4 linked regions of the Homo sapiens genome follow. Changing the gene in region 2 together with the main gene of any one other region gives a genetic interaction. Each region holds a gene or a part of one and is shown on either strand. Other genes may lie near its edges.

The links.
Region 1: changes in DMPK (region 2) and CHD1 together harm fitness more than expected from each alone (negative genetic interaction), as found in Homo sapiens cells (one large-scale study listed by BioGRID).
Region 3: changes in DMPK (region 2) and CSF3R together harm fitness more than expected from each alone (negative genetic interaction), as found in Homo sapiens cells (one large-scale study listed by BioGRID).
Region 4: changes in DMPK (region 2) and NPEPPS together harm fitness more than expected from each alone (negative genetic interaction), as found in Homo sapiens cells (one large-scale study listed by BioGRID).

The regions. Positions count from the first base shown.
Region 1 is NC_000005.10:98,897,606-98,901,507, forward strand, and holds part of CHD1 (chromodomain-helicase-DNA-binding protein 1), read right to left. Parts: intron 3,731-3,902; coding exon 3,581-3,730; intron 3,478-3,580; coding exon 3,206-3,477; intron 2,101-3,205; coding exon 1,875-2,100; intron 1,160-1,874; coding exon 1,059-1,159; intron 830-1,058; coding exon 651-829; intron 1-650. UniProt on the Homo sapiens protein: ATP-dependent chromatin-remodeling factor which functions as substrate recognition component of the transcription regulatory histone acetylation (HAT) complex SAGA. Regulates polymerase II transcription.
Region 2 is NC_000019.10:45,775,289-45,780,556, forward strand, and holds part of DMPK (myotonin-protein kinase), read right to left. Parts: exon of another isoform or gene 5,094-5,268; coding exon of another isoform or gene 5,035-5,093; exon of another isoform or gene 4,772-5,034; coding exon of another isoform or gene 4,582-4,771; coding exon 4,490-4,581; intron 4,332-4,489; exon of another isoform or gene 4,235-4,331; coding exon 4,151-4,234; intron 4,072-4,150; coding exon 3,976-4,071; exon of another isoform or gene 3,846-3,975; intron 3,354-3,845; coding exon 3,205-3,353; intron 2,933-3,204; coding exon 2,839-2,932; intron 2,586-2,838; coding exon 2,379-2,585; intron 2,303-2,378; coding exon 2,039-2,302; intron 1-2,038. UniProt on the Homo sapiens protein: Non-receptor serine/threonine protein kinase which is necessary for the maintenance of skeletal muscle structure and function.
Region 3 is NC_000001.11:36,469,012-36,472,913, reverse strand, and holds part of CSF3R (granulocyte colony-stimulating factor receptor isoform a precursor), read left to right. Parts: intron 1-227; coding exon 228-397; intron 398-522; coding exon 523-676; intron 677-774; coding exon 775-848; intron 849-1,267; coding exon 1,268-1,481; intron 1,482-3,073; coding exon 3,074-3,262; intron 3,263-3,656; coding exon 3,657-3,758; intron 3,759-3,902. UniProt on the Homo sapiens protein: Receptor for granulocyte colony-stimulating factor (CSF3), essential for granulocytic maturation. Plays a crucial role in the proliferation, differentiation and survival of cells along the neutrophilic lineage.
Region 4 is NC_000017.11:47,618,108-47,621,343, forward strand, and holds part of NPEPPS (puromycin-sensitive aminopeptidase), read left to right. Parts: intron 1-242; coding exon 243-350; intron 351-901; coding exon 902-1,057; intron 1,058-1,170; coding exon of another isoform or gene 1,171-1,265; intron 1,266-1,629; coding exon 1,630-1,677; intron 1,678-3,236. UniProt on the Homo sapiens protein: Aminopeptidase with broad substrate specificity for several peptides. Involved in proteolytic events essential for cell growth and viability. May act as regulator of neuropeptide activity.

The DNA of each region.
Region 1 (3,902 bases), on a different chromosome or scaffold from region 2:
CGTTAAATTGTTCAAAACCATCACTCCAGCCTTAAGCTACAAACCATAAAACTGGCTTAGCTTACCGTTCAATTTCTGAATTCCAAGTTATCCCTATGAAGAATGTAATTCTTGTAATAAGGAAAGAAAGTCTAGTAGTCCATAGATCTCAACACATCACTAGTAACTCTGGGTAAGTTACAAGGATGCAGAAAGTATTGTGCAAGGTAGTTCTGGATACTTTCCTATATCACTCTCCTTTTTCTCTACCTTCTAAGAAAATATCCACTATCTTTAAAATTGAGCATATCTCTAGTTTCCAAGGGTTTTTTTCTGTTTATTCTCCCAACCCTTCCTGACAATCACCATAACCAACTCATCTTTCTGACATAGTGATGCTCAACAAGATAAAAGACAACACTTAAGAAGATACATTGACGAAAACATCATTTACAATTTTTTTAAGAGAAAGTTTGAAATAAAAAATTATAAAACTAAAACTAAAAAACACACAGCAATTGCAGAAGTTCACTTCCTGTAAGACCTATTAACCAAGAAATATTCTCCCTTAGTCTATCTGAAATCAGGATCCAACTCTTGTATTTAGGCTTGTAAATATTTATAATGTATAAATATATTTTTAATAATTTAAAATGTTAGACAATACTCACTTTGCAATCTTTAAAAGGAGTGGTTTTTGATTGGTTCCTGCTAAAATACTCATCAATGCATGCTTGAAACTTTTTGGAAATGAGAGCTCCATCTTCCCAGCTGCACTCTGAGTATGGAAGGCCCTGCCATTTGCAGTAATAATCAGGATAACCAGCTGCTGACTTTTGATTGGAATGAGCTGTGAGAGAATCAGGCATTTACTTATTTATTTATTTTTTTTTACATTTAATCATCAGATACATAATTCTTAGTAAAGGCTACACAAGTAAAATTTAGCTATCTAGTTTACAATACTGTTTTAGTAAGAGCAAGCTACTGTGTTTGATATGTAAGTGGCAAACTTATGACTTTTTTCAGATTATTTCAAGCATAAAAAGAAAGTTTAACTAGAATCATTTATCACTAACCAATTATACGTTCCACTATTTGATACTGTTTATGTAGATCATCTGTAAGTTCTTGCTGGCAATTATAATATTCCACATCTTCTGGAGAGGCATTTTTCAACCTGAAAAATTATTAATCCAGGAATAGACTTAAAAATCTCCCATAAATAACCTTTCACTCCCCCATCCCCAACACTATTTGTAGCACAAAATCTCCCATTTTGCCACTGTGTGGGCCAAGTTTGAGTAATAAAGAAACTCAAACAGGAATAAAGCATCATTAATTTTTAACTAAAAATTTGTAATTTATAATGTATGAGACACACTCTATGTGACTGTTACCAAGGATAGGTTTAGATAGGTATACCTCTAGGAGTTTTACCTTGAGATGGAATAAAATCATCCCTCACTACCTGCAGGGGATTGGTTGAGGATCCTCTACAGATACCAGAATCTGAGGATGCTCAAGTCCCTTATATGAAATGACATGGTACCTAAAATATAACCCACACACATCCTCCCCCATACTTTAAATCATCTCTAGATGTTCTTATAATACCCAATTTTACATTTACAACGTAAATGCAGTGCAAATAGTTGTTACATGGTATTGTTTTTAATTTGTGTTATTGTTGTTTTTTTTCCCTCCGAATACTTTCAATCCATGGTTGGTTGAAACCAAGGATAGAGAAGCTGTGGACAAAGACAGCCAACTGTATTATAAAGTCTATAGCTATTTTAGGCTATCATTTAATGTTACTATGTATTCTTTATTAACATAAAGGTTTAGTAATCTTTGAACTATTAAAAGAAGTATATGATATACAGCATACTTACCATCTTTTTGTTTCCTGATCTTTTTTCTTATAATTATCCAATTTTTTCATTCCTCTAACATTCTGCTGCTTGAGGGTTTCTTCTGTCTCCCAAGTGTTGTGGATATGGGACCATCCTTTCCATTTAATTAAATACTGAATCTCTCCTGGTTCTTTGTTTTTTTCAAAGCCTGCATTTGGGTCACCATCTGCTTCAACTGCATAGATGGTTGTAGTAGCACCAGTAGCTGAAAACAAAAGCACAAGATCCTTCCATGTAATTAATTCTGTTGTAGGATTATATTTCAACTCAAAATTTCAATAATATGAGTACAAAAATATATACTCTTTTAAATAAAGTATTGGGGGTATAGAAACTTATGGGAAATTCTATTGCTCATAAATAAAACTGAGAATTTCAGAATTATCTAATATAATCCCCTCCTTTTTCGAATTAGAAAAAATAAAAAGACAGAGATCCACCTGAGATCCCACAGCATTATTCTATAATTATCCACAATATATGAAACGTGGTCAGCTGGAGGCCCAGCACGGTGGCTCACGCCTGTAATCCCAGCAATTTGGGAGGCCGAGGCGGGCGGATCACGAGGTCAGGAGATCAAGACCATCCTGGCTAACACGGTGAAACCCCATCTCTGCTAAAAATACAAAAAATCAGCCAGGTGTCCTGGCAGGCACCTGTAGTCCCAGCTACTCGGGAGGCTGAGGCAGGAGAATGGCGTGAACCTGGGAGGCGGAGCTTGCAGTGAGCTGAGACCGTGCCACTGCACTCCAGCCTGGACAACAGAACGAGATTCTGTCACAAAAAAAAAAAAAAAAGAAAAAAGAAATGTGGTCAGGTGGTTATTAAGAAGGTACTCAGGCTAAGCAAAGTAGCTTTTATAAAACATAAGTAAAACAACAACAACAAAAAATCCACCCTCTTAGCTTTCAACACTGTAGAAAAATCTTAAATACTTTACCTTTTTTTTTTTTTTTTGAGATGGAGTTTCGCTCTGTCACCCAGGCTGGAGTGCAGTCGTGCAATCTCAGCTCACTGCAACCTCAGCCTCGTGGGTTCAAGCAATTCCCTTGCCTCGGCTTCCCAAGTAGCTGGGACTACAGGTGCGCACCACCTCACCTAGCTAATCTTTTCTATTTTTAGTAGAGATGGGGTTTTGCCACGTTGGCCAGGCTGGTCTAGAACTCCTGACCTCAGGTCTAGAACTCCTGATCCATCGGCCTCGGCCCCCCAAAGTACTGGGATTACAGGGGCGACCCACTGTGCCCAGCCCTCTACTCCTGTAAATATTATTTAAATAACCAAACAATAAATGGTTTTTTAAAAACTACCTCCTTTTCTCCCAATCCGACAATCCATAAATCTTTCTATGGTTTCAAATTCCTCTTCCTCAGGTTGAGGAACATCCTCTCCACAGACTTCCAGTAGGTCATCAGAATCTGTTTTCATTTCTTCATCCTCCTTATAGCTAACATTAACAGTTGCTTGGCGACGAGAACTTCTTTTATCATTATCATAATCTTCTTCATCATCATCCTCCTCAGATGAATCAATCTGTCTCTTTTTTTGTCCAAGAATCTTCTTTCCATTTTTTGACTTAGATCTAGGAAAGTGCAAAGAGAAAAAAAAACAAGATTTGAGAAACTATATACAAAAAGAACAAATACTTTCCACAATCAATTTTCAGCACCAAACTGAGACCATACCTATTTTGAGGTTTTCTGCTTTTGACTTTGTTTTTTGGCTCATAATCAGATTCTGTTTCATCACAACTGCTTTTCTCTCTCTCTTCTTCAGATTCTGAATCTGAACCAGACTGAGATGGAGATCCTGACCCAGACATTTGCCAATCTTCACTGCAGACAAAATTTATAAAGTATTTTTATTTGTACTTATATGGCAAGTTTTATCCCTAATACAAAGATGATCAAATCAACCAAACTATATTCGCTATCAAAAATACTGTTGCTTTTACTCATGCTAAAAATGAAATATTTATAAAACAAAAACACTCTGGAAAATATTCTT
Region 2 (5,268 bases):
TCCTGAGTAGCTGAGATTACAGGCGCCCTCTACCACGCCTGGCTAATTTTTTATATTTTTGGTAGAGACGGGGTTTCGCCACGCTGGCCAGGCTGGTCTCCATCTTCTGACCTCAAGTGATCCGCCTACCTCAGCTGTTGTAGTCCCAAACTCTGGGCTCAAGCAGTCCTCCAACCTCAGCCTCCCAAAGTGCTGGGATTACAAATATAAGCCACTGTGCCCAGCCCAGTTCTGTTTTTTTTTTTTAGATGGAGTCTTGCTGTCTCCCAGCCTAGAGTGCAGTGGCACAACCCCAGCCCACTGCAAACTCTGCCTCCCAGGTTCAATCAAGCGATTCTCCTGCCTCAGCCTCCTGAGTAGCTGGCATTACAGGCATACGCCACCAAGCCTGGCTAAATTTTGTATTTTTAGTAGACACAGGGTTTCACCATGTTGGCCAGGCTGGTCTTGAACTCCTGACTTCCAGTGATCTGCCTGCCTCAGCCTCCCAAAGTTCTGGGATTACAGGCGTGAACCACCTTGCCCAACCCTTTTTTTTTTTTTTTTTTTTGAGACAGAGTCTCACTCTGTCACCCAGACTGGAGTGTAGTGGCATGATCTTGGCTCACTGCAAACTCTGCCTCCCAGGTTCAAGCAATTCTCCTGCCTCAGCTTCCCCAGTAACTGGAATTACAGGCACCCGAGACCACACCCAGCTAATTTTCTTGTATTTTTAGTAGAGACGGGGTTTCACCGTGTTGGCCAGCCTAGTCTCAAAACTCCTGATCTCATGACCCACCGGCCTTGGACTCCCAAAGTGCTGGGATTACAGGCATGAGCCACAGCGCCCGGCCGCGGTCCAGCCTATTTTTTTTTTTTTTTTTTTTTTTTTCTGAGACAGAGTCTCGCTCTGTCGCCCAGGCTGGAGTGCAGTGGCACGATCTCGGCTCACTGCAAACTCTGCCTCCCGGGTTCACGCCATTCTCCTGCCTCAGCCTCCTGAGTAGCTGGGACTACAGGCGCCCGCCACCACGCCTGGCTAATTTTTTGTATTTTTAGGAGAGATGGGGTTTCACCGTGTTAGCCAAGATGGTCTCGATCTCCTGACCTCGTGATCCACCCGCCTCGGCCTCCCAAAGTGCTGAGATTACAGGCGTGAGCCACCACGCCCGGCCAGCCCAGCCTATTTTTTAATTTCAGTTTATCTTATTTTTGAGACAGAGTCTCTCTCCGTTGCCCAGGCTGGAGTGCAGTGGCACAATCACAGCTCACTGCAGCCTTGACCTCCTGGGCTCAAGCCCACGTCGGCCACCCTAGTAGCTGAGTATACAGGCATGCGCCACCACGCCCAACCAATTTTTAAAACATTTTTGTAGAGACGGGGGTCTCACCACATTGCCCAGGCTGGTCTCGAACTCCTGGGCTCAAGCAATCCACCCACTTCGGCCTGCCAAATTGCTGGGGTTACAGGCGTGAGCCACCGTGCCTGGCCCCATCATTTTTTCTTGTATCCTGTTGCTTCCCTTCAGGGCACCTGCCACACTCTCCATAATTCTCTAATTCTCTAGACTGCAACTGGATGAGGGCAGGGACCAGAGCTCATCTGGTCCGTGCTGGATCCCCAGTATTGTTCAGCAAAAGGGCACCCAGAGCCGAGCAAGCATGCCATGACAGCTTGTTACACGGTGAAGAGAGACGGCCTAAGGGAGGAGGAGTCCTCTCCTGCTTCTCATCCCTCCAAGTCTCAGCTCAGATAGCTCCCCACTCCAGAAAGCCCTCCAGGACCTTCCTTGCTGAGTCAGGAGTCCCCCACCCCCTGCACTCCATTGTCTCAGCCCTGATCACTCTGGGGCCTTACTGTCTGAAGACTGCTCTGTGTTCCCCCACTGGACTGTAAGTCTAGGTCACTGCTGGGTCCTCAGTAGTAGATGGGCACAGAGCAGGTGCTCTGGGGAATGAGTGATTCAGGACCCCAGAAGGTAGGCACTGTCCTTACTCCAACTTTATGGAGGGAGCATGGGGAGGTTCCCGCAGCCGAGCAGGGGCCACAGGTACCTACCCCGCCCCCGCTCACCATGGCAGTGAGCCCGTCCTCCACCAAGTCGAAGTTGCATGTGTCGGTGGCACCTTCGAAATCCGGTGTAAAGGGGGGCACGCTGTCCCGGAGACCATCCCAGTCGAGGCCAAAGAAGAAGGGATGTGTCCGGAAGTCGCCTGCTCCACCCCGGCCCAGCCGTGTCTCCGGGGGACACAGCAACCGCTGAATGAAGTCTCGAGCCTCCTCAGGGACCCCTTCGTCCACCAGCGGCAGAGAGAGGTGCTCCTGCTCAGAGGGAGAGGAGGCGATAGCCTGGGAGCGCCTACCGGGAGAGGCCAGGTCTCCCTGCGGCCGTGCTCACCTTGTAGTGGACGATCTTGCCATAGGTCTCCGCCGTGGAATCCGCGTAGAAGGGCGTCTGCCCATAGAACATTTCATAGGCGAATACACCCAGCGCCCACCAGTCACACTCGGGCCCGTAGCTGCCTGTCCCAGGCCCACCGCCCACAGCCTGCAGGATCTCGGGGGACAGGTAGTCTGGGGTGCCCACAGCCACCAGCGACCGCACCTGGACCAAAAGGAGCAGAGCGAGGCTTGGGCCCACCCCTCTGGGCCCACCAGCTCTGGGCCCTCCTTCCAACCACTCCCCAAATGCTTAGCCCCTCCCTCTGCCTGGTCTAATACTCCGCCACACAGATGCACACTTAAGCCTGGGTCACACCACCTCTTTTCCCCTCCAAATCCAGTCCCGCTCCCACACTCTGTGCCTTCCATCCCTCATCAGCAGCCCCAGTTGCTCTGTGGCCAGGGCACTGGCTCACCGTTCCATCTGCCCGCAGCTTGAGGCAAGAGCCGAAGTCGGCCAGGCGGATGTGGCCACAGCGGTCCAGCAGGATGTTGTCGGGTTTGATGTCCCTGCACGGAGGAAAAGAGAAGGGTGGGATAAATGAACCTCCCTTCTGTGGTCCCACCAGGCTCCGCCCCTCCGGGCAGTGCCACCTGGGACCCCACTTCCTCGGGTTCCGCCCCTGTAGGGCTTCTACAGTTCTGACCCCTACTCCCAGGCACCCCCCGGTGGGCCCCAACCAAGAAGGTCCCTCTCCAGGCCCTGGCCTCTCTGGGCTCTGACCTTCCAAGAACCCGGCCAGGGAACAAGCTTGCTATCCCCTCGGCCATGCTGCACCCACCTGTGCACGTAGCCAAGCCGGTGCACCGAGTCTATGGCCATGACAATCTCCGCCAGGTAGAAGCGCGCCATCTCGGCCGGAATCCGCTCCCCAAACTTGCTCAGCAGTGTCAGCAGGTCCCCGCCCACGTAATACTCCATGACCAGGTACTGAGAAGGGGTTCGTCATGGGTGGTTGGTAGTCCCCTGAGGCCCTGATCCATCACGGATGGCTGGGACAACCCCTCCCAGAGACACCCCATCCTTGGGCAGAGACCTGCAGCCCCAGCCCAGAGATAACCATAGAGATCTGCCGGGCCAAATCAGAGACCACCTGCGGCCCCCGCCCCCGCCCCTCAAAAAAAAACACAAACAAAAAAACTTTCCTGGGATGTCACTGGGCAGATTCACTCCCCCTGAGATGTTCTGGGAAAGAGAACCCAGAGGCCACCCAACACCCAGAGAATAGGTCCCAGACACTCCTTCCCTAGGCAGTGGCCCCGTTAGAATTCCTGAAGACCTATCCCATTCCAGGTAAGAGACCCCCCGCAACAGAGACATCTTTATAAGAGTCCCCCAGATCACCCCAGAAACGGGCAGTGAAGGACACCATCCCCGTCTCAGATAGGGAAGGCCCCTCATCCACCTGACACACCCTCTTACCGCACACAGACTTTCCCACAGACGTTTCCGGGCAGCACCCCCAATCCTAGAGCTTCCTCTCCCCACCTCCTCGTCCAGTGACAGCACGGGCTCTTGTCCCTCTTCCTAGTCACCCCGGCCCGGAGCTCACCAGGTAGTTCTCATCCTGGAAGGCGAAGTGCAGCTGCGTGATCCACCGCCGGTCCCCATTCACCAACACGTCCCTCTCCTCACGGAAGCACGACACCTGCAGGGCACCCGGAGGAGCTGCAGCCGGAGACGGGGCGCGGATCCTCAAAGCCCCCCACGTCCGCCCAGCCCCTCACCTCGCCCCTCTTCAGCATGTCCCACTTGTTCATGATCTTCATGGCATACACCTGGCCCGTCTGCTTCATCTTCACTACCGCTACCTGAGGTCGAGATAGTGAGACAGAGTGGAGACGGCGGGAAAACAAAAGGGCTCGCCCAGACCCAACTCCACCCGCTTCTGCACCCAGCCGTGGCCCCGCCCCACCTGCCACACCACGCCCATTGGTCCCAAGCCCCGCCTCCAGCCCAGCCCTAGGTTCTAAGGCTCGGTCATTCATCAATTTCTAAGGCCCCGCCCCAACCCCTATGCCCCGCCCACCACGAGTCAAGTCAGGCTCCCGCCCGGTTCGGCTTACCTCGCTGAACGCCCCGCGTCCGATCACCTTCAGAATCTCGAAGTCGTCCCTCTGCAGTCGGACCTCCTTAAGCCTCACCACGATGGGCTCCGCTGGGGGGGTGGTGGGGGAAAAGAACCGAGGGTCACCAGAAAGGGCACTGGAGACAAGGGGGAAAGCCCCACCCTCTGTCTGTCTCCCCTTCTCTCTGCCTCTCAGCTTCACCCTAGGACTGTCTGCTTCCCAGGGGCTTCCCCACATAAACACCGTGTAAGGTTCTGGGGGCCAAAAATGCCCTCCCATAGAGGTGAGATGCCTGAGAAGCCCTTTGCGGGACAGGGCATTGGCCCAGAGGGCTCCAAGGGTGTGCAGGATGGTTAGGGTGGGGTAACGGAGTCTGCAGAAGGACAGACCCTAAAGAACAAGGGGAGAAGGAAATAAGACCCAGTTCTTCCACCTTCCACCCTGACTCCAGGTGACAGTTCAGGTGCAGCCAGGGCCCCACCCCCACGTTCTCATGTAGAATGTCCTGGGTAACGGCCCAGACGTGGGGTTGTATCCAGTACCTCTAGATTCAGATGCAGGTGGTTCTTGAACCACACTTTGGAAAACCCTGGATTTGGGGCTGGGGGAAGGAACAGGACAGGGAGACAAAGGTAGCATGGTCACATATCCCAGACTCAAGTGCTCCGGTCCAGCCCATCTCTCAGTCCTCCAGGAGGAGTGCTTTAGTCCTACCCCTTATTTACAGATGACAATCAGGCCTCTCAGAAGTCAAGGTCCTATGACTAGGAATGTTA
Region 3 (3,902 bases), on a different chromosome or scaffold from region 2:
GGAGGGAAAACATTTCAAGCAGAAGTAACAACCAGTGCAAAGGCCCTGGGGCAAGAGCGGAAACAGAGACCTAGAGAGAAACAAAGACACATAGAGATCGAACCACAGAAACGTGTCATTGGCAACGTGGACAGATGGTGAACCACAGACAGGGAGACAAGAGGGAGCTAAGGCAGAGCCCTCTAGGGTGGGATAGGGAGACCTTCTGACAGCCCCACTCCTTGCAGTGAAACTGGAGCCCCCCATGCTGCGGACCATGGACCCCAGCCCTGAAGCGGCCCCTCCCCAGGCAGGCTGCCTACAGCTGTGCTGGGAGCCATGGCAGCCAGGCCTGCACATAAATCAGAAGTGTGAGCTGCGCCACAAGCCGCAGCGTGGAGAAGCCAGCTGGGCACTGGTGAGGCAGAGGGCAACCTGGAGAGCCTGAGGTGGTGGGGGCAGGGGGCAGGGTAAGTCGGGCTCGAGCTGGCCCTAGAATGGCCCAGCGATCCAAGGCTCAGAGTCCTGTCCACCCCTCACCAGGTGGGCCCCCTCCCCTTGGAGGCCCTTCAGTATGAGCTCTGCGGGCTCCTCCCAGCCACGGCCTACACCCTGCAGATACGCTGCATCCGCTGGCCCCTGCCTGGCCACTGGAGCGACTGGAGCCCCAGCCTGGAGCTGAGAACTACCGAACGGGGTAAGGAGGTGATGAGAGGCTGGGAGCAGCCAACAGTATCCAGTCCAGGCCCCAGGCCCCTCCCCAACTGGCACCCCCTCTTCTTGTTCCATCCACAGCCCCCACTGTCAGACTGGACACATGGTGGCGGCAGAGGCAGCTGGACCCCAGGACAGTGCAGCTGTTCTGGAAGGTGACTCCCTCTGAAGGCCATCCCTCCACCTCGACACCTCCCGCAGTCCAAACAGATCCCTACAAACCGGGGCTTAGGACTCCAACAGGTCTGGGAGGCGTGGACGCATTTATATGTGATTTGCATGCACTTTGCATGTGCCTAGGGAGCTGAGTTAGCTTTTGGACAGACTGTAACGCACGTCACAGTGTGGTTCAGTGAATAGTTAAGAGCCTGCTGTGTCCACCAACTTGTTTCTTCCTGCCCTCCTTCCTAGAACCTAGCACAAGGGAACAGAGGGAAAAGGGGAGGGGGGTGAGAAGCCTGGACCCCAGCCTGGGGAGGCTCCGTTTGTATGATCCATCCACCCCACCTAGAGGCTCTCCTTGACTCAAGATGAGCTGCACATCCCCTTCTCTTTTTCCTCCTGTGCCCCACAGCCAGTGCCCCTGGAGGAAGACAGCGGACGGATCCAAGGTTATGTGGTTTCTTGGAGACCCTCAGGCCAGGCTGGGGCCATCCTGCCCCTCTGCAACACCACAGAGCTCAGCTGCACCTTCCACCTGCCTTCAGAAGCCCAGGAGGTGGCCCTTGTGGCCTATAACTCAGCCGGGACCTCTCGTCCCACTCCGGTGGTCTTCTCAGAAAGCAGAGGTAAAGGGGGCTGGCAGCCAGAAGAGCACAGAGGTCAAGCGCATCAATTCAAAGGCTAGACTGCCTGGGTTAAATCTAGTCCTATTGGCCGGGCGCAGTGGCTCACGCCTGTAATCCCAGCACTTTGGGAGGCCGAGGTGGGCAGATCATCCGAGGTCAGGAGTTCAAGACCAGCCTGGCCTACATGGTGAAACCCCTGTCTCTACTAAAAATACAAAAATTAGCCAGGCATAGTGGCGGGCACCTGTAATCCCAGCTACTCCGGAGGCTGAGGCAGGAGAATTGCTTGAACCTGGGAGGCAGAGGTTGCAGCAAGCTGAGATCACGCCATTACACTCTAGCCTGGGCAACAGAGGGAGACTCCATCTCAAAAAAACAAAAAAAAACAAAAAACGAGTCCTATCACTTGCTAACAGTGTGACCTGAGTAAGTTACCTCCCATCCCCGGCCTCTGTTTACACATCCAGCAGATGGGGATGATAACAGCACCTACTGAGCGGTGCCATGGGGTGTACATGAGTTAAGACAAGTGCCTGGCACAAAGTAACTGCTCTGCATGTGTCTGCTGTTGTTATTATCATTAGCCAGACCAGGTTAAGCTCTCTCTCTCACACACACACACACTCACAGCCCATTCTGCCAAGAAAGCCAAGAGAGAAAGCCCCAGGCTTTTCCACTTGGAACCTGGTCTATGAGTTCATTGCTCATTCTCAGGAAATCAGCTGCCACCACCCACTGCTTTCCCTAAACATTGGTCCTCGCAAGGTGGGACTAATAATCACAATAACAATAATCATAGCTAATATTCCCACTTACTAGCTGTGTGATCTTAGACAAGTTTCTTAACCTCTCTGTGTCTCTCAGTTTTCTCATTAGTAAAATGGGGAAAAGAGTAGTACTTCCTGGGTATGACTATTAGAGGACTCAGTGAATTAAAATGTATCAAGGAGTCCAGTATGGTGGCTCACGCCTGTAATCCCAGCACTTTGGGAGGCTGAGGCGGGCGGATCATCTGAGGTCAGGAGGTCAAGACCAGCCTGGCCAACATAGTGAAACCCCATCTCTACTACAAATACAAAAATTAGCCGGGCATGGTGGCGGTTGCCTGTAATCCCAGCTAGTCGGGAGGCTGCGGCAGGAGAATCACTTGAGCCTGGGAGGTGGAGGTTGCAATGAGCCGAGATGGCGCCACTGCACTCCAGCCTGGGCGACAGAGCAAGTCTCTGCATAAAAAATAAAATAAAGTAAGGTAAAGTAAAGTAAAATAAAATAAAATATATCAAGGACTACGCCTGACACATACCAAGAACAATAGAGTGTTAGCTGTTATCACTAACAAGAACTACTCCATGCCAGGCGCTATGCCAGGCTTGTTTCGTGCATCAAGTCATTTAATCTGCACTAAGACCCTATGAGTTAGGAACTTTTATCATCATTTCTACTTTACAGATGAGGAAACTGAGGCTAAGATGTTGACCTACCAAAGGTCACCCAGCCTGTAAATAGCAAAGCCAGGATTTGAACCCAGGCTTCTGGCTCAAGGGCCTGCATTCTTTTCACCTTCATTCCACCATTTCCCACCCTGTCTCCAGGCCCAGCTCTGACCAGACTCCATGCCATGGCCCGAGACCCTCACAGCCTCTGGGTAGGCTGGGAGCCCCCCAATCCATGGCCTCAGGGCTATGTGATTGAGTGGGGCCTGGGCCCCCCCAGCGCGAGCAATAGCAACAAGACCTGGAGGATGGAACAGAATGGGAGAGCCACGGGGTTTCTGCTGAAGGGTGAGGCTGGCCTGGAAAGTTGGGCAGGGCCAGGGACAAAGGGAGGCAGTGCTTATCTGACAATAGGCATGGGACAACCTGAACTGCCCAAGAGACATGGATTCTCCAGCCTTTCTTGATCCTTCGTTGTTCTCATTTCATATCCTCATAATCAGGAAGTTCTTCCTACAGTCTAACCTGATCCTTTTTCTATAGCCCTGACTCTGCCACCCTTCTAGCTCTCTCTTCCACTTTTCTTCCCTAATTCTCATCAAATGATCTAAAGAAGATATTGTGGAGGTTAACCCTGAATCATGAGGCCAGGTTAGCCCTCACTAGAGGTCTGAGGCTAGCTCCTGATCATTAGCACAGGTTAGGCCCTAACAGAAGTGCCTACCCCATTTTCTCTCTACAGAGAACATCAGGCCCTTTCAGCTCTATGAGATCATCGTGACTCCCTTGTACCAGGACACCATGGGACCCTCCCAGCATGTCTATGCCTACTCTCAAGAAATGGGTTTGTCAACTATCAGGCCCCTTTCCAGAATCCTCTCCTCTCTCTCCCAAGGCTCTGCCTGGTCCCCAGCAATCAGAAGTATAGGGAACATTGCCTTCCTACCATACTTCCAGCCCTGGAGAGGATCTCTCCCAATCCCCTGGC
Region 4 (3,236 bases), on a different chromosome or scaffold from region 2:
TGACCTCAGGTGATCCACCCGCCTCGGCCTCCCAAAGTGCTGGGATTACAGGTGTGAACCACCGCACCTGGCCCAAAGCATCTTGAAAAGTATTCTCTTTCTTTAATATAATGCCCTGCCATTCTTACCTAGTGAGAATATAGAACCTAAGTTTTACCTTACTGGGGAAGAAGCTCATATAATCATATGCAGAACATCCAAGGGAGAGTTAACTATTCCTATCTTTATCTTTTTTCCTGTAGCTTCATAAACAAGCAGATATGCAAGAAGAGAAAAACCGAATCGAAAGAGTCCTTGGCGCTACTCTTTTGCCTGACCTGATTCAAAAAGTCCTCACGTTTGCACTTTCAGTAAGTTACGGTGAAAACTGCATTTAGAAGTGAATCGTTACCCATCTCTGAGAAGTGTCTCTGATTCAGCTCTGATCCTCTTGAGCTGCCTTAACCCTAACTAAAGCTTCCTTTTCCAGAGTAACTGGCTTGAGTTTTTGTTACTGACTTCTGTTTTTCTCCCACTAGTGGCGAGAATCAGAATAGTTGGGAGAGTAAACAAATTGTCTCTCCAGAATGGAAACTATGAGGACAGGGACTCTTGAAAACTGGGAAACTGGCTTATGCCTTTGCTTACTTTGTGTCTCTTCCTTTCTTAAACCTATAGGCTCCTAAGCAAGTATCTGTTGAGCAGTCTGTCTGTCTGAACCTGTCTCAGTACCTCATTCTCATTTTGGTTATCTTTAGCTTAAACATTATCTTCTTTGCTGAGAACTTCTGGTTCCAGTTATTCCTAAAACAAGGAATAAGTGTCTTCAGTGTGATTACTTCAGTGTCACAGTATGGTGCACTTTCTGGTACCAGAATATGTTTTTGATACACTAGACTTTTAGCTCTCTTTCTTTTTTTAGGAAGAGGTACGTCCACAGGACACTGTATCGGTAATTGGTGGAGTAGCTGGAGGCAGCAAGCATGGTAGGAAAGCTGCTTGGAAATTCATAAAGGACAACTGGGAAGAACTTTATAACCGATACCAGGGAGGATTCTTAATATCCAGACTAATAAAGGTATGTGAAAAACTTTGAGTAGCTTGCTAATCATGGATATTATTTAGTGACATCCATGATTCACTACACCCATACATTGTGGTCTTTGCTCTTTAAATGTTTCCTGTGGCCAGGTGCAGTGGCTCACGCCTGTAATACCAGCACTTTGGGACGCCGAGGTGGGCAGATCACCTGAGGTCGGGAGTTCGAGACTATCCTGGCCAACATGGTGAAATCCTGTCCCTACTAAAAATACAAAAATTAGCTGAGCGTGGTGGTGTGTGCCTGTAATCCCAGCTACTTGGGAGGCTGAGGCAGGAGAATCGCTTGAACCTGGGAGGCAGAGGTTGTGGTGAGCCGAGATGAGGTCATTGCACTCCAGCCTGGGCAACAAGTGTGAAACTCCGTCTCAAAAAAAAAAAAGTTTCCTTAAATAGTTACTGGCTTTATTTAAGGACTTCTCCATCTCCCATCACACATCCTTTATAACAGACTGAAGTTGGCAGAGAACAGAATGATTTATTTTTAGGGTAAATGGAAGTTTGTTCTCAGCCTCTTGGTTTCACTTACTGTTTAAAACCATTGTTTTGCAGCTATCAGTTGAGGGATTTGCAGTTGATAAAATGGCTGGAGAGGTTAAGGTAAGGAAAATACTGTTTACTCTTCACTTTTCAGTCTAGTAAGTAAAAACAATAACCTGGTTGTAATTATAGTGTTGGGATAATGTACTGTAGCATCTCTGTGTTTTTGTTTAGAGAAAGACATCATGCAGGGCTGTATAGGCCATATTAAGAATTTCCTAAAAATGGCCAGGCATGGTAGCTCACATCTGTAATCTCAGCACTTTGGGAGGCCGAGGTGGGTGGATCACCTGAGGTCAGGACTTCAAGACCAGCCCGGGCAACATGGTGAAACCCCAAATTAGCTGGACATGGTGGTGCACGCCTCTAATCCCAGCTACTCGGGAGGCTGAGGCAGGAGAATTGCTTGAGCCCGGGAGGTGGAGGTTGCAGTGAGCTGAGATCGTGCCATTGCACTCCAGCCTGGGTGACAGAGCGAGACTCCTGTCTCAAAAAAAAAAAAAAAAAAAAAAGTCCTAAAAATGGAAAGCCTTCGAATGGTTTATAAACAAGGCAGTGCCTTGATCTGATTTGTGTTATAAAAATTTCAGTCTGGCTGCAATGTGGATAATAGTTTGGAATGGGGAAGAGAAGATGTTGGGAAGCTAACTCTCCTAGCAAGAATGATAGAATAGCTTACAGTAGGGTAGTGGCAGTAGTGGAGGAGATGGAATAATGGAGATTCAGGGGCTTGAATTTGTTAACCATTTAGTTCAACAATATTTATTGATTGGCTTCTCTGTTGTGAGCATATCTGGGAGAGGAAGAAAAACAAGCCAGGATAATCCCCAGGTTTCTGGTGTATAAATGTTGGTACTACTCTGCGATGGAATGGAAAAAGACTTGAGGCCCTGAGAACTGAACCATGATTAGGAGCCTTGGAACAGTAGCAATTGTCATCTGTGTAAATAAGGTTATTGATTTCTAAAAGGTCTATGTTTAATCAGATGGATTAGTCATTCTGTCTTTCACACCTGTGGTGACTAATTCAAAGGAAAAGCCCTATCATTTTGCCAGCTGGTGTTTAAGAGTTGCTTTGTTTTCTGTGAAACCAGGTGTACTGCATTAGAAAAGTTTATTCAACTTTTAATCATTAAGCATTGTGATAAATTGTAAACTTAGAAATTGTTTGGTTTACTGTATTAAAAATGTTGGATTCCTGTAATTCCAGCATTTTGGGAGGCTGAGGTGGGAGGATTGCTTGAGTTCAAGAGTTCAAGACCAGTCTGGGCAACATGGTAGGACCCCATCTCTACAAAAAGGAAAAAACAATTTGGCCTGGGAGTGCACGCTTGTGGTCCCAGCTACCCAGGAAGTTAAGGTGGGAGGTTTACTTGAGCCCAGAAGGTTGAGGCTGTGATGAGCCATGATCGTTTCATTGCACTCTAGCCTGGGCAACAGAGTGAGACCCTGTCTCAAAAAAAAAAAAAAAAAAAAGACCATGGGGTGTTAAATTATTAGGGCATAGCAGCAATTTAAACTTCTTTGTATTATCATCCCTTACAAATTAATCTTTATTTGAAGCAGCCAAAATGTGTTGAATCCTTAAGTACTCTGTGCTAGGTATTTTGTCAAATGTT